Regions from separate parts of the Homo sapiens genome. Here region 1 is linked to region 2. Evidence: fine-mapped QTL for protein levels in blood plasma. A gene starts in region 2. The other region holds a variant in brackets. All regions are shown on one strand. Distances are between the middles of the regions.

Region 1 (16,431 bases), 400 kb after region 2:
AACACCACTGTGGACTGTCAGCCACCATGACAGCTGAACACAACCGTCATTTTAATACTACAATTTAGTCCAAGAGCTACGTGGAGCCCTTTTATCATTACTGGTCTAACTCAATCTTTGAAATCCTCTTTACAATCTTTAGCAAATTTTGTTGATTTCTTGCATTACAGTGTGATGTTAGTCCTTATAAAACTAATTCATAACCATGATTTCCTTTTTAAGTAACTGATCTTTCTTTCTTCCGTATTTTCCTTCAGGTGTGAAGTGGGTTATACTGGTGTCCGATGTGAACACTTCTTTTTAACCGTCCACCAACCTTTAAGCAAAGAATATGTGGCTTTGACCGTGATTCTTATTATTTTGTTTCTTATCACAGTCGTCGGTTCCACATATTATTTCTGCAGATGGTAAGTCAGTGTGGTTTTATACTCTGCTTTTACAAATTACTTTTACATAATGCAGACCTATAAACTGGGTAAAAATATGGATAAAGTATTAGAGAGATAAGATCAAACCTGTACAAATGATATTTACAAGAGTTGAGAAACTATTAAGTATTATGCCCAACACCTGAGTGATGGGATCAGCTGTACCCCTAATCTCAGCATCATACAATATATCCTGTTAAGAAACCTGCATGTGTACCCCCGAATCTGAAATAACTTGAAATTATTTTTTAAAAATATGTTTTTGCTGCAGAACATCTGGATTGAACTTTATTATCAGCTCTGATACTTATTACCTATGTGACCTTACATAAGTCAAATTGAGAGTATCAATTCCCTTCTTTATCAAATATGGACAGAAATTATTATCTTACATTAGTTATAGGGTGGTTGCTTTTAGTATGTAATATGATATTTCATGTGAAAGTAAATCATAGGATAGGTGCTACTGTTATAGTTAACCACCTGAATTTAATTCCTCAAGTCACATTTTTTATTTTATAAAAAACAACCTTGTAAATTAATAACCTTAGAAGCTTGGGTTATCTTACAGTTTAAGGCAGACTGGTGGAACTATTTCTAGACAATTATAAAAAATGGTTGTTAAAAAATAGTTTGTGTCAGTCCCCCAAAACAGTCGTACCTCATCCTCATGTGCATTATTGTCACAAGCTGAAAACAGAAAAATAGAAAGTGAACATTGAAAGTATAGTTTGGCATTTTTTTAAGGGTTAGGAGCAAAGGATGGGAACAGTGTGAATTAATTAATAACAGTTCCCTTTAAAATGTCTCCATGAAACATATTTTGAAACAGTTACAAATTACTCAAGGTGAATTTACGTTTTTATTTTTCTGTGAAAGTAGTGCACTTCCAATTTTGAAGGTCTGAAAGTGTGCTACTTTCATAATATTAAATTTATTTTGTCCACATTTGATTCTAAGTATCCATCAAATAATAATGCCTTCCTAATAAGTTGCCATGACAGAACTAAATATTATTAAAACTGAAATATGCCTGCAAATCTTTGACCACAATCCTTTCCTTTATAGATGGGGCACTGAGGTTTAGAGAGGTTCATTCAAATATCCCAGCTCATATAGTTGACAAATGCCAGAGTGAAGAACAAATTCTTTCTAATTCATATTCTTACAGTAAACATAGACATGATGTGGTTTCCTCAAAGCTACATGTCTTATTTCCAAAATAGGGACAAAATAAACTCAAAAATATTAGGAAAATAGCTTAATGAATAAATGAAAGAAGATTCTAAATTATGATAAATCTATGAATCCTAGCTATGAGACCTTGGACCTTGGGCACATTATATACAACCCATTTGTATTTCACTTTCTTCATCTGTAAGATGAGGATGGTAACAGCAAATGTGAGAGTAAAATAAATAATGCATGTATAGCACTTAGAAAATTGTAGGTCACCAAATTAGTGCCTGATAAATATTATTTTTATTTTGATTAGTGATAGCATTATATCAATGTGATGGAAAGAGTGTATTAATGTAGCATGATTTGTAAATATTCATTCCTTAGAAGGGAGGAAGGAAAAAGAAAGAGAGACAGAAAAAGAAAACCTAAAATTCAGACTTAAATGTGGCCACACGCCTCTTGGAATTTCACAATATTCATGATCACGTTAAAGACTTTGAGAAACTCTTTAAGTGTATTTTATCATTTCATTCCAAAATTGTTTGACTACAGCACATCACCTCTTCATCCCTCTTTTTTTTTTTTTTTTTAACATTGTCCAACCTAAATCTGTTCAACTTTGTCATTTTGGAAACACTATGCTAATGTGCCTTTGGAGTCCATATATAACACACTTGTTCCTTTGCTATTAACTGCAGTGCTAACAGTTTCGTTTGTGAATATTTCCAGGTACAGAAATCGAAAAAGTAAAGAACCAAAGAAGGAATATGAGAGAGTTACCTCAGGGGATCCAGAGTTGCCGCAAGTCTGAATGGCGCCATCAAACTTATGGGCAGGGATAACAGTGTGCCTGGTTAATATTAATATTCCCATTTTATTAATAATATTTATGTTGGGTCAAGTGTTAGGTCAATAACACTGTATTTTAATGTACTTGAAAAATGTTTTTATTTTTGTTTTATTTTTGACAGACTATTTGCTAATGTATAATGTGCAGAAAATATTTAATATCAAAAGAAAATTGATATTTTTATACAAGTAATTTCCTGAGCTAAATGCTTCATTGAAAGCTTCAAAGTTTATATGCCTGGTGCACAGTGCTTAGAAGTAAGCAATTCCCAGGTCATAGCTCAAGAATTGTTAGCAAATGACAGATTTCTGTAAGCCTATATATATAGTCAAATCGATTTAGTAAGTATGTTTTTTATGTTCCTCAAATCAGTGATAATTGGTTTGACTGTACCATGGTTTGATATGTAGTTGGCACCATGGTATCATATATTAAAACAATAATGCAATTAGAATTTGGGAGAAGCAAATATAGGTCCTGTGTTAAACACTACACATTTGAAACAAGCTAACCCTGGGGAGTCTATGGTCTCTTCACTCAGGTCTCAGCTATAATTCTGTTATATGAGGGGCAGTGGACAGTTCCCTATGCCAACTCACGACTCCTACAGGTACTAGTCACTCATCTACCAGATTCTGCCTATGTAAAATGAATTGAAAAACAATTTTCTGTAATCTTTTATTTAAGTAGTGGGCATTTCATAGCTTCACAATGTTCCTTTTTTGTATATTACAACATTTATGTGAGGTAATTATTGCTCAACAGACAATTAGAAAAAAGTCCACACTTGAAGCCTAAATTTGTGCTTTTTAAGAATATTTTTAGACTATTTCTTTTTATAGGGGCTTTGCTGAATTCTAACATTAAATCACAGCCCAAAATTTGATGGACTAATTATTATTTTAAAATATATGAAGACAATAATTCTACATGTTGTCTTAAGATGGAAATACAGTTATTTCATCTTTTATTCAAGGAAGTTTTAACTTTAATACAGCTCAGTAAATGGCTTCTTCTAGAATGTAAAGTTATGTATTTAAAGTTGTATCTTGACACAGGAAATGGGAAAAAACTTAAAAATTAATATGGTGTATTTTTCCAAATGAAAAATCTCAATTGAAAGCTTTTAAAATGTAGAAACTTAAACACACCTTCCTGTGGAGGCTGAGATGAAAACTAGGGCTCATTTTCCTGACATTTGTTTATTTTTTGGAAGAGACAAAGATTTCTTCTGCACTCTGAGCCCATAGGTCTCAGAGAGTTAATAGGAGTATTTTTGGGCTATTGCATAAGGAGCCACTGCTGCCACCACTTTTGGATTTTATGGGAGGCTCCTTCATCGAATGCTAAACCTTTGAGTAGAGTCTCCCTGGATCACATACCAGGTCAGGGAGGATCTGTTCTTCCTCTACGTTTATCCTGGCATGTGCTAGGGTAAACGAAGGCATAATAAGCCATGGCTGACCTCTGGAGCACCAGGTGCCAGGACTTGTCTCCATGTGTATCCATGCATTATATACCCTGGTGCAATCACACGACTGTCATCTAAAGTCCTGGCCCTGGCCCTTACTATTAGGAAAATAAACAGACAAAAACAAGTAAATATATATGGTCATATACATATTGTATATATATTCATATACAAACATGTATGTATACATGACCTTAATGGATCATAGAATTGCAGTCATTTGGTGCTCTGCTAACCATTTATATAAAACTTAAAAACAAGAGAAAAGAAAAATCAATTAGATCTAAACAGTTATTTCTGTTTCCTATTTAATACAGCTGAAGTCAAAATATGTAAGAACACATTTTAAATACTCTACTTACAGTTGGCCCTCTGTGGTTAGTTCCACATCTGTGGATTCAACCAACCAAGGACGGAAAATGCTTAAAAAATAATACAACAACAACAAAAAATACATTATAACAACTATTTACTTTTTTTTTTTTCTTTTTGAGATGGAGTCTCGCTCTGTTGCCCAGGTTGGAGTGCAGTGGCACGATCTCGGCTCACTGCAACCTCACCTCCCGGGTTCAAGAGATCCTCCTGCCTCAGCCTCCTGAGCAGCTGGGACTACAGGCGCATGCCACCATGCCCAGCTAATTTTTGTATTTTTAGTAGAGGCGGGGTTTCACCATGTTGGCCAGGATGGTCTCAATCTCCTAACCTTGAGATCCACCCTCCACAGCCTCCCAAACTGCTGGGATTACAGGTGTGAGCCACCGCACGTAGCATTTACATTAGGTATTACAAGTAATGTAAAGATGATTTAAGTATACAGGAGGATGTGAATAGGTTATATGCAAGCACTATGCCCTTTTATATAAGTGACTTGAACATCTGTGCCCGATTTTAGTATGTGCAGGGGGGCGATCTGGGAATCAGTCCCCTGTGGATACCAAGGTACAACTGTATTTATTAACGCTTACTAGATGTGAGGAGAGTCTGAATATTTTCAGTGATCTTGGCTGTTTCAAAAAAATCTATTGACTTTTCAATAAATCAGCTGCAATCCATTTATTTCATTTACAAAAGATTTATTGTAAGCATCTCAATCTTGGTTTGTCAGTTTATCTTAAGCATGTCAATTCATAAAAACAAGTCATTTTTGTATTTTTCATCTTTAAGAATGCTTAAAAAAGCTAATCCCTAAAATAGTTAGATCTTTGTAAATGCATATTAAATAATAAAGTATGACCCACATTACTTTTTATGGGTGAAAATAAGACAAAAATAATAGTTTTAGTGAGGATGGTGCTGAGTAAACATAAAAACTGATTTGCTCTCAGCTGATGTGTCCTGTACACAGTGGGAAGATTTTAGTTCACACTTAGTCTAACTCCCCCATTTTACAGATTTCTCACTATATATATTTCTAGAAGGGGCTATGCATATTCAATGTATTGAGAACCAAAGCAACCACAAATGCATAAATGCATAATTTATGGTCTTCAACCAAGGCCACATAATAACCCAGTTAACTTACTCTTTAACCAGGAATATTAAGTTCTATAACTAGTACTCAAGGTTTAACCTTAAAATTAAGATTTCCTTAACCTTAACCTTAAAATTGATATTATATTAAACATACATAATACAATGTAACTCCACTGTTCTCCTGAATATTTTTTGCTCTAATCTCTCTGCCGAAAGTCAAAGTGATGGGAGAATTGGTATACTGGTATGACTACGTCTTAAGTCAGATTTTTATTTATGAGTCTTTGAGACTAAATTCAATCACCACCAGGTATCAAATCAACTTTTATGCAGCAAATATATGATTCTAGTGTCTGACTTTTGTTAAATTCAGTAATGCAGTTTTTAAAAACCTGTATCTGACCCACTTTGTAATTTTTGCTCCAATATCCATTCTGTAGACTTTTGAAAAAAAAGTTTTTAATTTGATGCCCAATATATTCTGACCGTTAAAAAATTCTTGTTCATATGGGAGAAGGGGGAGTAATGACTTGTACAAACAGTATTTCTGGTGTATATTTTAATGTTTTTAAAAAGAGTAATTTCATTTAAATATCTGTTATTCAAATTTGATGATGTTAAATGTAATATAATGTATTTTCTTTTTATTTTGCACTCTGTAATTGCACTTTTTAAGTTTGAAGAGCCATTTTGGTAAACGGTTTTTATTAAAGATGCTATGGAACATAAAGTTGTATTGCATGCAATTTGAAGTAACTTATTTGACTATGAATGTTATCGGATTACTGAATTGTATCAATTTGTTTGTGTTCAATATCAGCTTTGATAATTGTGTACCTTAAGATATTGAAGGAGAAAATAGATAATTTACAAGATATTATTAATTTTTATTTATTTTTCTTGGGAATTGAAAAAAATTGAAATAAATAAAAATGCATTGAACATCTTGCATTCAAAATCTTCACTGACAATGCAGCCTCATTCTTTTTTTTTCTTTTGCAATTTTTTCCCCACAATACATTAAAGGGTTTAAAAGCAGTGACAGGGATATAATGTGTGTAGACATAATGACTCAATGGTGTTAATTTGGGAAAACATTCTATAAATGTATCACGTTTTATAGCCAGCATAGTGAAGAATTTCTTGTAATAGAAGGAGCCACATTAGTTATAAAATTCTAGGTGTTGGTATTTAAAAATCCTAGGAGTTAGGATTGATTGATTGATTGATTGATTGATTGATTTTGAGATGGAGTCTCACTCTATTGCCCAGGCAGGAATGCAGCGGCACGATCTCGGCTCACCACAACCTCCGCCTCCTGGGTTCAAGCGATTCTCCTGCCTCAGCCTCCCGGGTAGCTAGGACTACAGTCACGTGCCACCATGCCCGGCTAATTTTTGTATTTTTAGTAGAGACAGGGTTTCACCATGTTGGCCAGACTGGTCTCAAACTCATGACCTTGTGATCTTCCCGCCTCCGCCTCCCAAAGTGCTGGGATTACAGGCATGAGCCACCATGCCCAGCCTGGGGTTAGTATTTTTTAAAATAATATTTTAAAGAGTATTTTAAAAGAGTATTTCTAAAAAGAATAGATATCCTATTGGGAAGTAGCATTTGAAAAGATTCATCAGCCAGAATGGTGCCTTATGATTCTCTCAGCCTCTGCAAAGAGGCTTGGCTCCCCTGAGCCTTTAGAGCAGACAAGCTTGATTCTTCCCACCCTTCATCACAGTGATGGATGGCTTCCTTGGTATACTTATTCAGCAGCCTACAGAGTACTTGCTCCATTCCTTAGCTCCTTGGATCCTTCATTAGCTTGCAGCTGGGGAAGGGACCTATGGCTTCAACCCTTTGACAGGGAGGTTAAGCAATTGTCCTGGGTCACACCACTGGCAATAGGTGGAGGTGTCATGAGAATTCAGGTCTTCTCACTCCTAATTCCACTGATGTTCGGGCCATGTCAGAGGCAGAGGAAGATTATAAGGAGTTAGTCTCAGATCTAGTTTAGAGTTTTCTTGGGAGAAATAGAAATTCTTGTAAAATAGAATCTTTGAATTGTCATTGAATCATTACACTGATTTTGTTCAAGGTCTGAGAATCCAGAAGATTAAGGAAGAGAACTCTTAGAAACACTTTTTTTTCTCTTGGTTTCCAGGATATCACACTCATCTGCTTTTCTACCTGCTTCTCAGTCTTTAGCTAGATCTTCCTCAATATTTCCCTATTCTCTACCATGGACCTATCAAAAATAGAGTGCCCCAGAGCTCAATATTGTAATTTTTCTCTCCATATAGCCACTCCCTACTTCATTTCATACAGTTTCATATCTTTAATTGCTGTCTATATACTGATTTCTCCCAGTCTAGATATTTGCCATGAGTTCCAGATATCTGTGTCCGATTACCTAACATCTCCACTTACATATTCACTAGGCATTCAAAGGTGACACGATCAATAACTAATATTCCCCTATAAACGTTTCTTCAATATAGTTACTATTTCAATAAAATTCAACTCAATCTTTCTTTTATCTCAGACCAAAAACCTGCTATCTCTCTCTCTGGGAATTGCTAAATTACTCATCTTCAAGTGATTTCAGAGAGAAATAACCTAAACTTTTACAATGGTGGCAGAATTGGTCATTTTGAAGAGATTATGCAGAGGGAGGAAAAAGATTCCAAGAAACTGGAGTTAAACAGAATATCAGAGTCTTCAAAAGGATAAAATTATAAGCACTGAATTTGACTCTGATCAATTCTAGAACATATTTTTCCCTAAACAGTCATAAAACATGAAATATATGTGCTGTTCATTAAGTTCCAACATGAATTCATTAAGAAAAGACATAAAACATGGATCACTTTTAAATATCCTGTCTGGTCACCCACTAATGCTAACTATCTGTCATACAAAATCAAACACAGATACTCTGCTCAGTTTATCTAAATTTCAGAGAAATACTTGGGAAAAGACTTCCATAATTTTCTTATTAGCTTGTAGGGCAAAGTACCTATTAAGAAAATAAGCAAAACTTACGCTCATTTAATGCAGATAATGTACGTGGATCCATTACATGCTAAATGAATGGAGAACATGTGACTAAGTGACTAAGTGATACAGAACAGATAAGGGATTGGTTATACTAGCAGATGTTATGAAATATACATAAAAATACAATCATATATTGTTGACCAATGATGACCTTTCCAATTAATCTATGAATCAATGATTTTTCTATTATTCTCAGCACCATCCCTTCTTCTGGGGATGGCAGGATGTGTTCCAAAGAAGTATGTGTCATGTTTCTGACCTTCAAGTTACTATCAGAAACAATCTGCATTCTTAAAAAATAATAAAAACAGTGCTTTATGAATTAATCAATATTTATTGAAAAGCTTTTCTGTGTCTAGTAATTTGCAAACGGTTGTGGAATATTCAAAAGAGTATAAAATATACTATCATTTGCAAAAAACTTAGAAGAGAGATTCAAAGTTATGAGAACATTTAAAGAACAGTGGAGGCTTTAATAGTTAGGGTTTCTTGATTTTTAGGGGAAAAAACCAATTCTGGTGAAACTAAAACATTTATAGGAAAGATATGAGACAGTCAATAGAATTAGAGTAAAAGCTAAAAAACAGGACAGTTCTAGTGATTTAGGTAGCAGTGTGTT[G/A]TTTCTAGAAGTTGTGTATTCCAACCATTTTACTTCTTGGGAGCTCATGGTCTAAGAAGACAGCATATGACTGTCTAACTGAGAATATGAGTACACCCCTGGCCAAAGAAGGGCACTTTAGCTGAGAAAAGCAAAAGTCTGTATCTAATAAGAAAAAAAAATCCCCCAAAGAAAAATAAAATGCTATTACCAGAAGAATGAATAAATTCTGAAAAGACAAATAGCAGAAGTCCACCATATGTAGTAGATAGTATCATACAAAATAATTTAGAGAAAGGTAACTTCGAGAGGGGAAGTTTCACTGAAGAGGTAGGACTTTAATTGGACTTTGAAAAAATGACAGGACTTTGATATAAGCAAAGGAGAGATTGTAGGACATTTCAAATGGGAGAATAATCAGCAAAAACACTAACAAAAAGCATAGCATGTTTACGATGTGTCAGGGAGACTATCCTGACAGTAGCAGAGGATCTATATTTGAGAATAGTTACAAATTTAGTTTGAAGGCTCAGTAAAGATGTAAGAAAAAGATAAGCTTTACATTTATGGACCATTGAGAATCATTTATAGTTTTTAATCAGAGGAATGACACCATAAATTGGTGTGGTAGGCAGAACAATACCCCTCACCTCAAAAGATATCTGTGTTCTAATCCTCAGAACCTATGAATATGTTACCTTCCATGGTAAAAGGGACATGACTGATGATTAAGGTTACAGATCTTGAGATGAGGAGGTGATTGTGGATTAAATGGGTAGGCCCAATCTAATCACATGAGTTCTCAAAAGTACAGAGTCATTCCAAGTTGTCATCAGAGAGATGTGATGTGAAAAGGAAGGACCTGACTCACAGTTGCTGACAAAGGAAGAGGGTTCCAAGCCAAGAAACACTGGTGGCCTATGAAAGTTTGTAAAGACAAGAAAATAGACTCTCCCCTATATTATTCAGAACAGAATGTAGCCCTGCCAACACCTCGATTTTCACCCAGTGTCAACACCTTCCTTTAGCCCAGGTATCTATTAGACTTCTGAATTGTAAGATAATAAATTCTATTGTTTTAAGTCACTGAAATCATAGCAGTTTGTTGATATTAAAAGAAATCTAATATGGTTAATTTTTTGGAAAGATTGAAATGAGATTATTTGAGAACACTACTTGAGAGAGGCAGGAGGCAGAGAGACCTACTAATGGAGTGTTGTAATGACCTAGATGTAAACTGAAGAAAGTTGAGACTAGGATTATGTCTGGGAGAACAGAGCAGGAGGAGCATTTTAGATATGTCACAGAGGGAAAATCAGGTGTTTAGTAATTGGATATGAGAAATGAGAGAAAGCAAAGTTGGAAAGAATTGAGTTTAGGAAGGAGGAAAAATGGTTTCCATATGTTGACTCTAAGATAACAGCAGGGTATATAGTAGAAATAGCATATTTGAGGTACCTGACAACACTTCAAAATTACTTACTGTTTTACAATTTACAAAATACTTTCACATCTATTAAATCTGTTTCGACACACACTTTGATATAGAAGGTAAGATTCATAATTATTACCTAAAAAAGAATATGGTCTCCAGAGAAGTTGTGATTTGCACCAGATCACAAAGCAAGTAAAGTCACAGAACTCATACACTATCCTAGTGCAGCCTCTAAGCCCCAGGCCAAATTTCCCTCCCCTTAGATGAACCCCCAATGCAGAAGTTGGGTATGCGGTCTGGACTAAAGCTGTGATGTTGAGAACCCCCATCACAGAAACCATGGCTGAAGCCAAAGAATCACTTCAAGTTAAACACTCCAAAGGTATGAGGGTAGAGGAAAAATGCCAAGAAAACCAGTGACTGAGTCTCAGTAAAGTGATAAAAGAAACTTTATCTAAGGAATGGGTAAAAGAAAAGAAGATTTTGCAGACAAAACAAATAATTAAACGTTTAATTTCTTCATTCAATCATTCAAATACTTATTGAGGGCTTATTATGTGTCTTACTGTTTACATCTTGAGAATAAGTGATAAATGACAAACAAAACTTGAAATTTATATTCTAGCAGGAAAAGAAAGAAAATAAATACTAATAACAACAACAGTTGCAAACGTGTATAGGGCTATTTGTTGTTAAGCTTTTCAAATACAATAACTTATGAAATCCTTCTAACCACTTGATGAGGTATGTAACTATTTATTTAAAATGCATTTTTCAGATGGGGAAATTGAGACACAGGGTAACATGTCCAAGGTCTCATGGTTAGTGATAAAATAAGGTAGTAAAACATAACATGCTACAATTTCAGGGTGTCTTTAGCTAGGGTGGTCAAGGAGGCATCCCTACAGTTTGTGGAGGCAAACTATCCTTGGCTTGGAGCAATAAATGCAAGGACTCTAATGTTCAGAAGACAGTAAGACCAGCCTGGCCCAGGGCATACTCAATGGACAGTTGCAAGAGAAGTCAGAGAGGTAGTCAAGGGTAGAAACTTTAGGGGCTATAAGATTTGGTAAGGTCTTTGCCTTTTCTTAACAATGCAATAAGAACATAGGTGGGAATTGAACAATGAGAACACATGAACACAGGAAGGGGAACATCACACACCGGGGACTGTTGTGGGATGGGGGGAGGGGGGAGGGATAGCGTTAGGAGATATACCTAATGCTAAATGACGAGTTAATGGGTGCAGCACACCAACATGGCACATGTATACATATGTAACAAACCTGCACGTTGTGCACATGTACCCTAAAACTTAAAGTATAATCAAAATAAATAAATAAATAAATAAATAAAAGAAACTATCAGAGGGCTGGAGGTAGGGTGATGAAATAATTCAAAAAGATCAGTCTATCTGCTCTGCCGAAAGTAGACTAAAAAGGACAAGACTGAAAGATAAGGTGGGGAGTATTTTAATAACCCACCTAAATGGTTAGGGGAAAGATAGCAGTAGTGGAAGTAATGAGAAAGTGTTGAATTAGGAGTATAAGTAGACTATACTTAAATCAATAGGATTTGCTGATGGTTATAACCAGGACATCTAGGAGAACATAATGGCATGAAACTCAGAAGAAAGAAAAAAAAATCCAAGATTTACAGTGATAGTCAACACGGTCTAACAAAAAAAAATCTAGAAAACAATGGGAAAGAAGAAAAACGCCCCTGGTTTTGACCTCTGAATGTCATGAAGCTTGAAAGAGAGTGCTTTTAGTGAGTGATGAAAGTGGAGGCAGAATTGCACTAGATTAAGGGAGTTGGTGGCGGCTGTTGGTAGAGAGTACTTATTTAGAATATTAGCCATGAAAGAAAATGGAAGTGACAAGCCCTCAATTGTTCAGTTGTTGATTATATAGTTTTAGAATTAGCAGGCCTTGTCCTTTTTTCTTGGGCCCTTTCTGTGTTCATTACAATCTTTAGTAAAGGAGAGTTGACATCAGGGAGGAGGTTAAGATTATCAGTTAAAACGGAAGTTGGGAATACCAGTGGTTTTCGCTTCTTCCAGTCACCTCTGTCACTCCAACCACAGATAGCTGAGAGTTGGCTCTCACCCTGAGTTTCAGGAAAGGGACCAATGTGAGTGAGTCATGTGCTTACATTAGATGCAGTCTTGATTAGAGTGGGAGAATCTGGCTGTGGGAATATGAATATGTCCCTTATCAGTGGGTAGGGCCTTTTTATACATGGGTGGGGCTATGGAACAGAAATCTGAATTGAAGAACATACACATTAGCTATATTGAAAATTCATTCTTCCGCAATGCACACGATGTCTCCTGGACCTGTCGATAATGTTGTATAATTTAGAAATCATGAGTAGGAGGTTTTGGGCTAATGGATACAAATCTTAGCTGACGTTTCAGGGGTAACAATTTGTTATCCTTAATATGAGAATCTCCACTGTGGTATTCGTTAGGTTGGGGGCAATCTCCAGTAGTTAGTATGTGTTTGTTTTCTGGTCCTTTGTTATTCTTTGGTAGTTAATAGAAGAATTCAATGTTTATTATTAATACACTAATAGCAATTCGTCATTCCTCCTTAGCACCAACCTAGGTTGTAAAAAGGCTTAAAACAAAGACTGTAACAGAAAGAGTTTCTGAATCTAGGCCCACCCTGTAAAATTTAGGTCATAAAATACATGTAAGGAATTAACCTTGGAAATTAAATTATAAAATAAGTAATTGAATTATTTTGAAAGCTTTTACATAGAGAAAATGCAAATTTAGCATATAAGAACTGCACCTCTTCCACAGATTCTAATCAACCTTATTACATTTTCTTTTGAGAATGTGCAGCACTTGGTTTCAGGCTTGGGATACTTTCCCAGGAAACAAATCCACGAGGTCATGGCCCTTTAAAACAGTCATGCATCTGTTTACAACTATGGAAAAGAGATTTCCTGGGTGTACGTTCCACCAAAGGACAAGTTTAGGGGTCAGGCTTCAATGTCATTCACCAACCTCAGTAGCAGGATCTTGTGTCACTGGAAGCCAGTTATAGCATGTAATAAAGGTGTGGGTGTTTACATATGTGCACACATCTAATAAGAAGCTCACAGTTTCATTTAAATTTATGGCTACTTATACCTCTTTAAGTCATACGCTAGACTACAGAAAATTATTTGTTTTAATTACAAAATAATAAGTTTGTTTTAGCAAATTTTCAAAGTAGTGTTAAGTAAGTTTAAGTTACCTTTTTTCCCTTACATGTTAAAATTACCACTATGAACATTTTCATTTATAGTTTTGCAATCTTTCATGCGTGTGACTGTGGGTATGTATACACAGTAATGGGGTCATTCTGTGGGTACCATTGTGTATCTTGTCTTTATCACTTAACAATGACATTTTCCATGCCATTAAATATTATTCTGCAGCATTTTAATCACTCCATTATATATATGATATATATATAATATATATTTTATATATCATGTATTATATTATATATATATCATATATAATATATATTTTATATATGTATATAATATATATATATTTTTTGAGATGGAGTCTTACTCTGTCGCCCGGGCTGGAGTGCAGTGGCGTGATCTCAGCTCACTGCAACCTCCACCTCCCAAATTCAAGTGATTCTCCTGCCTCAGCCTCCTGAGTAGCTGGGATTACAGGTGCCCGCCACTACGCCCAGCTAATTTTTTGTATTTTTAGCAGAGACAGGGTTTCATCATGTTGGCCAGGCTGGTCTTGAACTCCTGACCTCGTGATTTGCCTGCCTTGGCCTCCCAAAGTGCAGAGATTACAGGTGTGAGCCACCACACCCGGCCATGACTGCATAATCCTAAAACAACACTCTATTATTGGATGTGTGAGTTGTTTTCAGTTTTCCGCAGTTGCATATAAGTTTTGATGAATACCCTTGTAACAAAATTGTGCCTCTTTTATATTATTTCCTTAGAATAAGTCCCTAAAGTGAAATTACTAAACCAAAGCTAAGAATAAGCAAATTTTGTGTTTGATATAACTCCCAGCAATTATTTTTTAAGTTTAAGTAACAAAATAAAAAATATATCTATATTAATATCTACAGGATAACTTGGCAAATGATTCAATCATAAGTTATCCTATGAGCTTTTCACCCTACTTGCTTCATCATTCCTTCTCCCTCTCTGAACAATTTGAGAAAAGTTACAGATATTGCAAAGCTCTGCCTCTGAATACTTCAGTGATTATTTCCTAAGAATAAGGATATTCTCTTATAAAACCATAGTCAAGTTGTCAAAATCAGGAAATTAAACATTGAATACTTTTATCTGACATTGATTCCATATTAACTCAAATTTAAATTATCCTAATAATGTCCTTTATGATTATTTCTTTTTTTTTTTTCATTCAGAATTCAATCCAAGATCACAGGTTGCATTTTGTTGTCAATCTCTTTAATTTCCTTTTTCATTGAACAGCTCCTCAGCATTTCTTTGGACTTCTTGATCTAGATATTTGTAAAGATTACAACTCTGTTCCAAATTGTCCCACATTTTGTATTTCTCTGATGTTGGTTAATAATTAAAATCAGATTATGTATCTTTGGAGGGAACATATTGGAAGTAATAGTGTGTCCCTCAGAATACTTTATATTGTGAACCCCAGGATATCAATTTATCCTAATGTTTATGATATTAAGATTGATCATTTTGTTAAGATGACATTTATTAGATTTATCCACTATAAATTTACTATTTTGCCCTTTATAATTAATAACTAATTTGTGGGGAGATATTTTTGGACCATGTAAATATACTGTTTCTCATTTAAATTTCACCCACTAGTTTCCATATTGATGTTTTTCCTATTTGATCATTTCTTCTACATTTGTTATTTGGGGTTCTACTGTAAGGAAGAGCTTTTCCTAAAGGTTTATTTATTTTTATCACTATGAACTATCAATATTTGTTCTATCATTGTTTATAAATTAAACAGAAGAGACCTTTCATGCCAGTTCAGGAGAGGGACTAAGCACCTTGAGCATGTTACCTAACCTCTCTGTGCCACCATTTCCTCATCTCTATAGCAACTCTGCCTTACAGGGCTACTATAAGAATTCACTGAATCAATACATATAAAATGCTAAGAACAGCATTTGGCAGATACTGAATGTTCAATAAGTACCATCTGTTATTACTACTTCGAAAGAAGTTCCTCACAACTGGTGGTTACTTGGGAGAAATAAAAAATTTAAATAATTTGTTCAAATCACTTCTAGTTATTTCTAAATTACATCTGGGGTGATTGTATTTCTCCTTACAGAATTACACCAGTTGTGCTTTTACAGTTTTGGTTTCGTTTTTGGTAAGAATTCAGGAACACATTCTTAATGTTTTATCAGAAGTATTCCTGGGCAATAGAAACTAGGGAAACACACAGCTTCCTGCATCTTCCATGGAAGGTGGAAGGTAGTGTGTCCGGAATTGGTGGGTTCTTGGTCTCACTGACTTCAAGAATGAAGCCGCGGACCCTCGCAGTGTTACAGTTCTTAAAGGCGGCGTGTCTGGAGTTTGTTCCTTCTGATGTTTGGATGTGTTCGGAGTTTCTTCCTTCTGGTGGGTTCGTGGTCTCGCTGGCTCAGGAGTGAAGCTGCAGACCTTGGCGGTAAGTGTTGTAGCTCATAAAGGCAGTGTGGACCCAAAGAGCGAGCAGCAGCAAGATTTATTGCAAACAGTGAAAGAACAATGCTTCCACAGCGTGGGAGGGGACCTGAGCGGGTTGCCACTGCGGGCTCCAGCAGCCTGCTTTTATTCTCTTATCTGGCCCCACCCACATCCTGCTGATTGGTCCATTTTACAGAGACCCAAGTGGTCTGTTTTGACAGGGTGCTGACTGGTGGGTTTACAATCCCTGAGCTAGACACAAAGGTTCTCCACGTCCCCACT
Region 2 (11,249 bases):
ACAGGTAACACACACACACACACACACACACACATATATATATATTACACAGAGATACGTATGTGTGTGTGTGTATGTGTGTATTTCATAGTGTTAAAAATGGTTTTGTTTCCTAAACTGGAAAACACTATGAAATCAGAGATTATAACATTTATCACTGTTTCAGTGTACTGGTAGAGACTCAATTCAAAGTGCCACATTAGCGAAGATGATGTGTTGAAAATGATGATGATGAAGTTTTAACATATCCATGTATTTGCTCCTTCAAGCAATTGAAGTATACCTCTATATTAACATGTGTAATATATAGTTGCAATTATTTGCCTACTTATCTGCCTCTCCCACCACATAGTGATCTTTTCAAGTGCAATTCTCTGTGACTTACATACAGTAGTGCAGCACATAACATTTAGGTCAACAATAGACTGCATATATGACAATGGTCCCATAAGATTATAATGGAGCTGATAAATTCCTGTTGCCTAGTGATGTGATTCGCATTGCCTCATGGTTGTAAAGTCATAGGAAGCAGTGTATTACTGACATGTTTGTGGGGATGCTGGTGTAAACAAACCCATTCACTGCCAGTTCTATAAAAGTATAGCACATAAAATTATGTATAGTACACAATACTTGATAAGAATAACAAACAACTATGTTACTGGTTTATGTATTTACTATACTATACTTTTTATTATTATTTTAGAATATACTCTTTCTACTAGTTATAGAAAAAACATTAACCGTGAAACAGTCTCAGATAGATCCTTCAGGAAGTATGAGTTGTTATCATCTGTCTGTTGTCATAGGAGATGGCAGCTCCATGCATATTATTGCCCATGAAGAGCTTCTAGTGGGACAAAACAAGGAGCTGGAAGATAGTGATACTGATGATCCTGACTCCGTGTAGGCCTAGGCTGATATGTGTTTTTGCATCTTAATTTTTAACAGAAAAGTGTGAAAAATAAAAAATACAAAACAAAACAAAAAACAATTAGCCAGGCTCTATGGCTCATGAGTGTAATCCCAGCCTGAGAGGCTGGGGCAGGAGGATCGCTTGAGACCAGGAGTTCGAGAGCATCCTGGGTACCTAATCAGTTCCCTTCTCAATAACAATTTTCAAAAATTAGCTGGGCATGATGGTGCACATCTTTAGTGAAGATCAAGGAAGATCACTTGATCCCAAGAGTTTGAAGCTGCAGAGAGCTATGATCATGTCACTGCACTACAGTGTGGGTGACAGAGAAAGACCTCTTCTCTAAAATAAATAAATAACTAGATAAAAAAGAAAACGAGCTTATAAAATGACGATATAAAGAAAAAACGTTTTTGTACAGTTGTACAATGCGTTTAAAGTGTTATTACGAAAGTCAAAAAGTTTAAAAATTAAGAAGTTTATAAATAAAAAACACAGTAATCTAAGGTTAATTTATTGTTGAGGAAAAAATATTTTTTATAAATTTAGTGTAGCCTAAGTGTGTACAGTGTTTACAAAGCCTAAAGAAGTGTACAGTCATGTCCTAGGCCTTCACATTCACTCACCACTCACACTCCGACTCATCCAGAGCCACTTCCAGTCCTACAAGCTCCATTTGTGGTAACTGCCCTACAGAGGTGTACCATTTTACTCTTTTATACCATAATTTTACTATATCTTTCTACATTTACAGATGTTTAGATACTCAGATATTCACCATTGTGTTACAACTTCCTATGGTATTCAGCACTGTAACATGCTGTACAGGCTTATAGCCTAGGAGCAATAGGCTGTACTATATAGCCTAGGTTTGTAGTAGGCTATACCATTTAGGTTTGTGTAAGCACACCCTGTGATGTTCACACAATGACAAAATCACCTAATGATGCATTTCTCGGAATGTATCCCAATTGTTAAGCAAAACATGACTGTATTTTTGAATATCCTGTATCCAACACAATGGCTGTTGCAGAATGTTTTGTAATTCATATGTGTTTATGAACCTGAAACTTGAAGCCCCTTCTGAGTTAACAGCAGAGAGAATGAAGGGGAGGGATGATTTTGCATATGGATGGGCAACACGCTGGGTTTTTACAGTCTTACACCCAGATTTTAATGTTTGCAGTGTAAAGGAATCCAGGTGGTCCTGAGTGGCAACTGAATCATTCTTTCTCTGCATGTAAACAGAGTAACTCAATACATGCACTCAAAAACAGAAGACATCTGCATCTCGGGAGGTATAAGCATGGTGTCAACACTGTGCCATGTCTCAGGAGCTGGTCTTGTCAAGTTTCAGTGGGAAACCACTAAACATAATGAGTGAGATGCCTGATACCCTATAATTATTATAGTATATACAGTATGCTATTTATGTATCAAGTTGTATTACATGTGTGAATAATACTATGTTATATGTAATGTAATCTCTTCATTAGAGAAAGAAGAGTTGAGGAAAGCACTGTGGTGTGGTGGTTAAGAGCACAATTTGAAATTCCCACTCTGTTACCTACTTAGTTATCTGAAAGTGGGCAAGTATTTTAAACTCTATAAACTTGATTTTTCTCTTCTGTAACACTGGGGAGGATAATAATAATCATAAGAAATAATTACTAACATTTATGTGTGGCTTATTTATGACACACATTATTTTAAATACCTTAAATTTATTAACTTTTTTAATCCTTCCATAAACTCTATGAGGGAGGCAATATTATCCCCATTTTAGGGATGAAGAACCTAAGGTACAGAGAAATTAAGCAACATGACCTGATATACACAGCTAACAAGTGGCAGAGCCAGGTTACCTCATTATTCAAACTCCAGAGGATGTTCTTTTAACCAGATCATATCTATCTTTTAAAAAATTGTTTAGTTCATGCATGGAAAACACTTAGTATTCCTGGCATATTAAAATGATTAATAAATTGGAACTGTTATCATACTACATTAAGAATGACACCGATCATCAATTTAGTAACTTTTGTTGTTCAAACTGTGAAATACCAAGTATACAAAAAAGAGAGGAAAATTAAAGCTTTTTTTCCCCAACAATCCTGTTAAAATTAATAATAGATGACAACAAGTCAATAGCAAATTTTTATTTCATGTGAATATTTTTGTAAGAATAGTGTGGGTATAAGTTTTAGGGTTTAAAAAATGAATGAAAGTTCTGTTGATGAAAAAAGTAGAATTTAGAATTAGGAGTCTAGTAAGGTTGAAGTCCTATATTGTACTTATTTATAAGGCTCATTCTAATGATAGAATTATAACTATGTAGATATGTTAATTCATTTTCATCATCTATTTTTGTTCTACTAGTGGCAAATATATTCACTTTAAACCAGCTAACCACAGTTTATAAGATTCATATTCACCAATTTATTATTTTAGTGTTTGATGGCTAAAATAAACATCAGAATAAACTTTCAGGGAGTATTTTAAATAAGACATCCTAGGACTAAGACACTGAGAGACTCCATTAAGTTCCTAAATATATTAACAAAAATGTATTGAGCAAATATTCTCTGTTGGGCTCCATGTAATTCCTATTATCATTGACCATTATGAAATCTAATAATACCCATGAGTATGTCTAATAACCATAAAGTAGACCAGGAAAAATCAACCAAGTTGTGTTAGAATAGAAATTTTTAAAGAAAAAAATGCAAAGTACAGTCCAATGTTTAGGCAAGAATTAGAGGGTTGAAACCAGGCTTATTTATTTTCATCTTCTTTCTGCCATCTTTTAACCAACCTTCTCAGAATAAAATGTGATTTTTGAGACAGAATGAAACACATATCCAAATTTTAATACAGTAAGAATAGGTATCCTGAATAAATGAGAACTCTAGAAAATCAAGGTTTCAAAATTCTACCCTTCCTGGGAGTTAAAGAAGTTTGGCAGAAACAGAACAAATTAATCAGCAGATTCATCACCTGCCAATTTTTTCTGTACAATTTTCTTGATTCTGGGAGCATCTGGGTCCAGGCAGATTTTCCTCCCATCCTTCAGTGTGGCTCTGCAAAAGAGAACAGGGTTATCTGTGGGTGTCCTGATCTGAATATCAGAACTAATCCATGAGACTGGAGGAAACGAGTGCATATGTGGATGGAGGTAGAGGGTTTCTCTGATAAGGCAATAGCACAGAAACAGCAACTTACATCACTTCGACTTGGTTGCAATGGGTTCCTTTCCCGATCACTTCCAAACTTTGGATGTTTTTGGGATGAATTCCAGAGGTTGTCTTTATACACATGCAGCGGAGTTCAGCATACAAGTCACTGTCTAGACTTTCCTCTAGGGTAGAAAATGTGACCTATTGGTGGTCATGAATATTTTCCTCAGGTCTCTTATTTGCAGATTGAGGGCAATTGTACCTCTCTCATAAAGCCATTGTGAATATGATCTGTAACGCTTTAGTAAAGTGCCCAGAAGATTGCCCAGCACACAAGAAGTGAGAAGTGACCCCCCTGTGTGTCTCCTCCAATTGGAGTTATTGGTATAATGGCCCTCTCCAGCCCCAAAGGCACCAAGCTAGTCTTTACCCCAGAGACAGGTGTAGCAGAAGCAGCAACAAGTGCAGAGAAGCAGGGCCTCTACCTTTGCCTTTCGCCAAGTTTCTCTTAGTTTGTCCTTTGGTGGAGGAAGCCAGAGCAGTCAGCAGCAATGACAGAAGCAGCAGCACCTGCAAGGCATGAAGTGGTCTCGCACTGTTACAGGAAGGGGTGGTATCAAGTCTGAGGCTCATGGTGGAGAAGGCTGAGCTAGAGTTGTTTCCAGAACCAGAAGACCTCTGAGTGAGGGTGAGTTGCTGCCTACAAGTCTGCAGATAAGTGGCTTCTCATGCCCTGAAGATGTCATTTATATGCTCTTTCTCAAAGCCAGTAAGAAGGAAGAGGTAGGAAAGGAGGAAGTGAGGGTATGTGGTGATACACACATAAGCATTTGAAGCTGTGCCCAACCCAGAGAAAGACCAGACAGGTCAAATTCCTACTAACTTGCTTAATGTGCATCACTTCACATTCCCACTCTCCCTTTCTCAATACTTATCTTCCTTACACCTGTGTAAGAACTCCGTTCAGGAAGGTAAGAACTAGACTGAAATACTACATGCATTTTCTTTGTATGATTTATAACAATACGCCCTGCCTTTTCTATACTGCAGTTTTTAGGCTTAATAGAAACTTTAGGAGCACCTGAAGGCACAAACATGTGGCCCTTGAAAGAGAAAGTTATCTTTGCTTGCCAAAGAAAGCAAATGTTCTTTTCATGAATGTTGATAAATATTGGGATTGGTTTGGAGCATGTAAGTAAAATAAGAGCCAATTACCGTCAAAGGTTGTCTTTGGATTTTAGCTTATTGGATTCTTTCTGCCTTCAATCTATATTATCTTTTGTAATTTCATCTAGAAACTACAAATGAAACTCATCCTCCTTTATATTACAAAAGAAGCTACTTGTTTCTACCACCTAAGAATACCTAAAAAGTAGGACCCAGCATATTTATTTTTCTTTTTATTTTTAATTTAACAGAAAAATTATATAATTTATTGCAAAAGATTCGTATGCTGCAGATGTCTTTGAAATAAAACACAAATTTCTCTTCATCATTTCTCCACATTCCTACTATTCAGTGGTAAACACTGGTAACAATTTTGCATTAGTTTTCAATTCTGTCTGCACTTATATGCACACATGTATATGTATACAATGAGACACGTTTAAGACATAGAGGTACACATATACATAGAAGTATTGTATATGGATCACTATACAGCTGACTTTTATCCTTCAAAAAATATGTGTTCCTTATCTTTTCAGGTCATCTTAATGTAGTTTTCCCCCATTCTTCTTAATGACCATGTGACGTCCTGTGATAAGAACAATAGTTACTCAACCTTGCCTTGTTGGTGCCCTTCACGGTGTTTCCAATTTTGCACTATTAGAAATTGTGCAAGAAATGTCCTTACCAAGGAAAATATTTGTTCCTGAATTCTCAGACCCAAATTAAAGGTTTTGGTCTGAAATGCTATATCCCTACAAAGATAGAGAGGTGGACCTACACATTACATGTTGGCTTTATGTTATTTTCTGGTTCTCTGTCCCATCTGTAAGACTTCCTTCCTCAATTGAACCATGCACTTTTGTAGGGAGTGGCATGTCCTGTGTTTGTTTGAATGTCTCATGTATCCTATAACATGTAGGATACTTCAATATAAAGTAGGTCTTAAATAATTAATAAATCAATGAATACGTATCACATGAAAGCTTCCCTATCCTTTCTAATCACCTACAATTCCAGGCCAAACTCGACAGGACCCAAAGCAACTATGCTATTTAAATTTATTTGGAAGATTGTCAATAAAGAAGAGGCAGATGTAAGTGGCACTGGCAACAAGTTTTCTTCCTTTTACAACTATGTATAAGTCTCACAGAATATTATTTAAATTTTCCATATTCTTTTCTTACTTTTCATATCCTTAAATTTTAGAAGAAATGCTTAAAATACTAAATGTTCAAAATTACTCTCTATCAAAAAGATGAATATAGTAATTTTTTAAATCATGTTTTTGTTTTCAAGCCAATTTTCCCTATTGTTTAATAGTTATCTACTATGTCTACTCAAGTTCTCAGGTCCTGTTTTTAAATGCGATAACCTACAGACCACATTTGACAGTTTACTTTAGAAGTAAGCAGACTTCCAAATTAACTCGCCCTGGAAAGGTTTCGTGACTTGATGGTGACATTCTATCTCTGAGTAAAGTATTTTATTACGAGTTCCTCAAATGATTGATGTACTAATTACTGTAGAACCTACTGACACTAAATAGGACAATGATTTATTTCTAAGTTTAGCTGAAACAAAAAGTTTTATTGATTGTTTTGTATGTAGACATTTAGCCTGTATGCTGTAATCTGTAGCTAATGATTTTAACTTCGGTATTGTACCCTCCAATGAAAAAGAAGACAACTCTGGTATGAGGAGTTTTTCTGCCTTATTTTAAGCTTTTCTATTATATAAAGCCCTTGTAACTTGTGAAAGACTCTAGAACACCCCCAACTTTGTGGATGTGTCTTCCCAGGTCTGTCTTCCCAGTTGGCTTTCAATAAACATGTATAAAATTATTTCTGCCTCACTAGCCTTAGTTTCAGTTGATGAATGTATTTCTTATTTTTCTCCACCTCATTTATTGTTTTCTTTAAATTAGAGTTTAGCAGTAGAGCATATTTAATTGGAATGATTTTTCTCCCTGTCACAACATAGAAATTTCTAGTCTTAAGCAAGCTTAAAGGAAGGGTGTAAGCTGAGAGTTCGGAGTCTTCTGAGAGTTGAGATGTGGAGTTAATTGCAGAGATAAGCTCAGCAGGACACAAAATGAGGGGAGCAGACTTCTTTCTCTTTCCTCCTGTGGGGTGACTTTATAGCTTTTCTTCATTATTGAGATTGAGATATTGTGAATTCGCAAGTCATATACATTTTCAAACATAAGATCAAAGCCATTTCCAGAACAAGATATAAAGGTTTTTTTTTTAACACTATTCATAGTATATTTCATTTTCTGTTCAACACCAAAATACATTGCTGAAAATGTTTATTGGCTTCACTGGACACCTTTTTTCCCCCTACTTAACGTTATCCAGATTTCTTTCCTCGTTCATTAGTAAGATTTCCTAAAAGTTCCTAATCGTTTTAAGAAAACTGTATGAAAAGTTTTCTGAAGTAATGATGCTTTTGAGTGAGTTGATACCAGGAAAAAGGTAGGCTCTTTCCTACCAGGAAACCAACTGGTGGGTTAATACCAGGAAAGAGGTGACTCCAGTATCATGGAGTCATTGTCTTAATCAACAAATGTGGCTTGTCACGAAAGACACATCGTCGGCAAAATTCGTGAGGAAGTAGTAACAGATTTCTTGAGTCATCAAAATTTCTTAAGGATATCAGTCAGCATTTGATATAAAACAATATTTTGCTAGTTTTTATTAACTCAAAAAATATTGATTAAGCATCAGTTGATTAAGCCTGAACTTCCTAACAGGTTTTACGAAGTTCTCTTTGCATGACTTGGTCATTTAATTATTTATTTTTTAAAAGTCAGGCCTAAAATATTTGTGGAAAGCAATGGGATATGAAAAATACTCTACTCTTGCTGCTATGATGACAACTGCTGCTGTTAATTGCTGTTACTGTCATTTGCATCATTCCCTTCCATTTCCACGTTGAGAAACACAGTAAAGATGATGATAAACTGAGTGTACAAAACTGGTTAAAAGATGTTTTTAAAAACTTATTCAGTTAAAAGCATACTGTTATGCAAAATTATTGTTTAAATAAATGCTAGAATTAGAGAAGAGTTATTTTGTTCCTTGTTTTTAAAATAACTTGACAGCCTTTTTATTAATCTTACATTGTCATTGTGGGTTTGTATATGTGTGTGTTGGGGGGTGCTAAGTTATTTTAGCTCTTTTTTCTTTAAGTCATCTTATAAATAGCAGAGTCATGAAGGAAGCAAGCAAATTATCTAAGACTCAAAGCACATTTTATGTTAGCTATTTTAAAAGAAAATATCTAGAGACATTGGAGGACCACTATCTATAAAATTAAGGCATAAATGACTTCTCTGCCTCACACAGAACATTTTTAACGCACATTTCCCAAATCCTTCTTTCAAGTATGAAGGAAATAGACTAGCACAAGCAAATCAATCATAAAAGCAATTAGTACCAAAAATGCTAAGGATAGTACAATGTTGAGTCTGTTCATTAAAGTATCTTAATCAATAAATTTAAAATACTAGCCATCAAAAGTTTTTCTGTAAGGGCTGAAACCAAATGTGCTTACTGTATAACTATGAGTTGACAAGAATTGTTCAGATGTGAATTGAGGTTTTACTGTCTACTGCCCAGAGGTGAAGCATGGGGTGAAAATGGGAGGACAGTGGGGAGGGTGAAGAAGTTGAGGGGAAGTATCTTTCTGGGCGCTATTATATACAATACTTCAAAGTTTTGCCAGACTCAGAATTTGTGTTTTAAATTATGTTGATTAATATCATTTGTTAAATCTCAAATATATGAAAGTTACCTAGTTTCCTTACATGCTCATTCATTAAGGAAATTCTAACATAATGTTCTAGAGCATTGTTAACAAGTACCATTAATCCTCTTTTGTTGTGTAATAAGTCGACCTCATTGTTAGTGGCTTAAAATATTAATTTATTGTTTCTGATAATTCTGTATGTTAGCGTGAGTTTCTTCTGCTAAGCTCACTTGAGTGCAGTCAAGAGCAGCTGAAATGGCTGAAATAAAGAGTGGGACAATAGGGTGACAATAGTCAATAATAACTTAATTGTACATTTTAAAATAACTCATAAAGAATGTAACTGGATTGTTCGTAACCCAAAGGATAAATGCTTGAGGGGATGGATACCTAATTCTCAATATGCTTATTTCACATTGCATGCCTGTATCAAAACAGCTCATGTACCCCATACATATATACAGCTACTATGTACCCACAACATTTTCTTAAGAATAAGAAAAATAATAAAATAATTTAAAACAACATTTTAATGGCTTAATTCACATGAGAGGTTGTTGGTGTTGGCTGCTGGTTGTGATTTCTACTGGGGCACCTGCGTTCTTCTCCTACTCTTTTAAATATAATTATTTAACTTCTCACTAATAAGCAGAAATGAGGAATGGCGGGAGAGAAGGAGAGTAGGCAAGGGAAGGGGAGGGAAGAGAAGAAGAAGGAAAAGGAGAGAAGGAAGAAAATAGAAAGGAAAAAACAGGCAAGTCATAGTCCCTTCCAACACCCTCCTCCTCTCATCCTTGTCTCCTCTAGTCTTCTCTTTTCTAGTTCTTCCCCTCACCTCTTCTCCCCTTTCTTCCACTCTTCTTACTGGAAAATATTTGTTCTGTGGGAAAACTGAGTATATTTGCAGCAGAAAACCTTAACTTAGACTGAAAGTTCCTCATCTTTATAATTTCCAGATCATAAGGATCCTACAAAGATAATAGGCATGTAACAGGATTATCGATTAATATCAATAAATTAATATTTGATTGATGAATACTTATACAAAGGAAAATACATCATATATTTTGATAGGTACTATGTAATTGACAGAAAATATACAGAGAGTATATTGTTTCCAGAGCTTCTTTAAAAGACTCTGGTGGCTTATGCCTGTAATCCCAGCACTTTGGGAGGATGAGGCGGGCAGATCATGAGGTCAAGAGATCAAGACCATCCTGGCCAACATGGTGAAACCCCATCTCTGCTAAAACTACAAAAATATTAGCTGGGCAGGGTGGCACGCACCTGTAGTCCCTGCTACTCTGGAGGCCGAGGCAAGAGAATCACTTGATCCTGGGAGGCAGAGGTTGCAGTGAGCCAAGATCATGCCACTGCACTCCAGCCTGGGCGACAGTGAGACTTGGTCTCAAAAAAAAAAAAAAAAAAAAAAAAAGACTCATAGCCTATTCTAATATATACAAGTACATGCCAATATAAACATGTATAATGTAATCCAACTGGAGTGTGAATGTATGTACATACATACTAATATGATTAATCTTCTTTCTTTCCTTTTCTTGTGTTTCATAAAAGAGCAATTTCATATAAATACCTATTCTTAGGTATTTATATAGTAAATTTGAGGGACAAGGGAAGTTGAAGTACTGATCAAGATTGGGATGAGACAGAACCTCATTTGTCATTTAGATAGGGAAATGTTAAGTATAACCTAAGAATATGTATTTAAATGAAATTGCTCTTTTAATTTTAGAGTGACAAGGGGACTTGTTTAGCCAAAATCACTTGCTTTTTGAATACCTAGTATGTGCTAGGCACTGTCCTAGGAACTGAGATGAAGTTGATAAGCATTGTCCCCGCCCTCATGAGGCTTACATGAAGCTAGAACAGAGAGACCTTAAACGGATGACAATAAACACACAGGCTCAATAAACTCTACAGTAACTTCGGTGAGAAAACTTCATGAAGGAAAAGTACAGAATGCTATGAGAGGGTATAAAAGGGTCCTCCTCAAAGGTAGGAGTAAGGGTTGGAGAGGTTTCCTCAAGAAAGTAAAAGGCAAGCTATTCCAGAAGGAAGGATGGTAGCTACCCTGGTAAAAGTGAGGGGAGGTATTATAGATTGAGAGGATTGTGCATGCCAAACTCCTTGTTGGACTACTGCTAGACAAGGAGAAAAGAGGGTAAACAAGTTATAATTTAATTAAAACCGAGCAGGGTGGCTCATGCCTGTAATCC

Direction of the effects. Alleles are on the strand shown, and positions count from the first base shown. The strength of an association depends on the size of the effect and on how common the allele is.
With allele G in place of A in region 1, the plasma level of the protein whose gene starts at base 4,812 in region 2 is higher (weak association).

The links. PIP is the posterior inclusion probability: the model's chance that the variant is causal. Protein levels are from antibody-based Olink assays in UK Biobank. Linkage for the fine-mapping came from a reference panel and not from the study's own genotypes, which makes the PIPs less certain.
Region 1: its variant is fine-mapped to the plasma level of the PPBP protein (UK Biobank, PIP above 0.99).

What each region holds. Positions count from the first base shown.
Region 1 is chr4:74,382,388-74,398,818 of GRCh38, forward strand. It overlaps EREG (epiregulin), which reads left to right. Exons shown (of 5, transcript NM_001432.3): 4 at 258-407; 5 at 2,340-6,362. The coding sequence ends at 2,421. Among named protein-coding and RNA genes, the nearest start is that of EREG, 25 kb to the left of the region's middle. The variant G/A (reference allele first, on the strand shown) is at 9,075.
Region 2 is chr4:73,983,379-73,994,627 of GRCh38, forward strand. PPBP (pro-platelet basic protein) reads right to left here and starts at 4,812. Exons shown (of 3, transcript NM_002704.3): 1 at 4,578-4,812; 2 at 4,139-4,274; 3 at 3,061-3,996. The coding sequence starts at 4,725. The coding sequence ends at 3,894. RefSeq lists enhancers at 1,465-1,978, 1,979-2,491.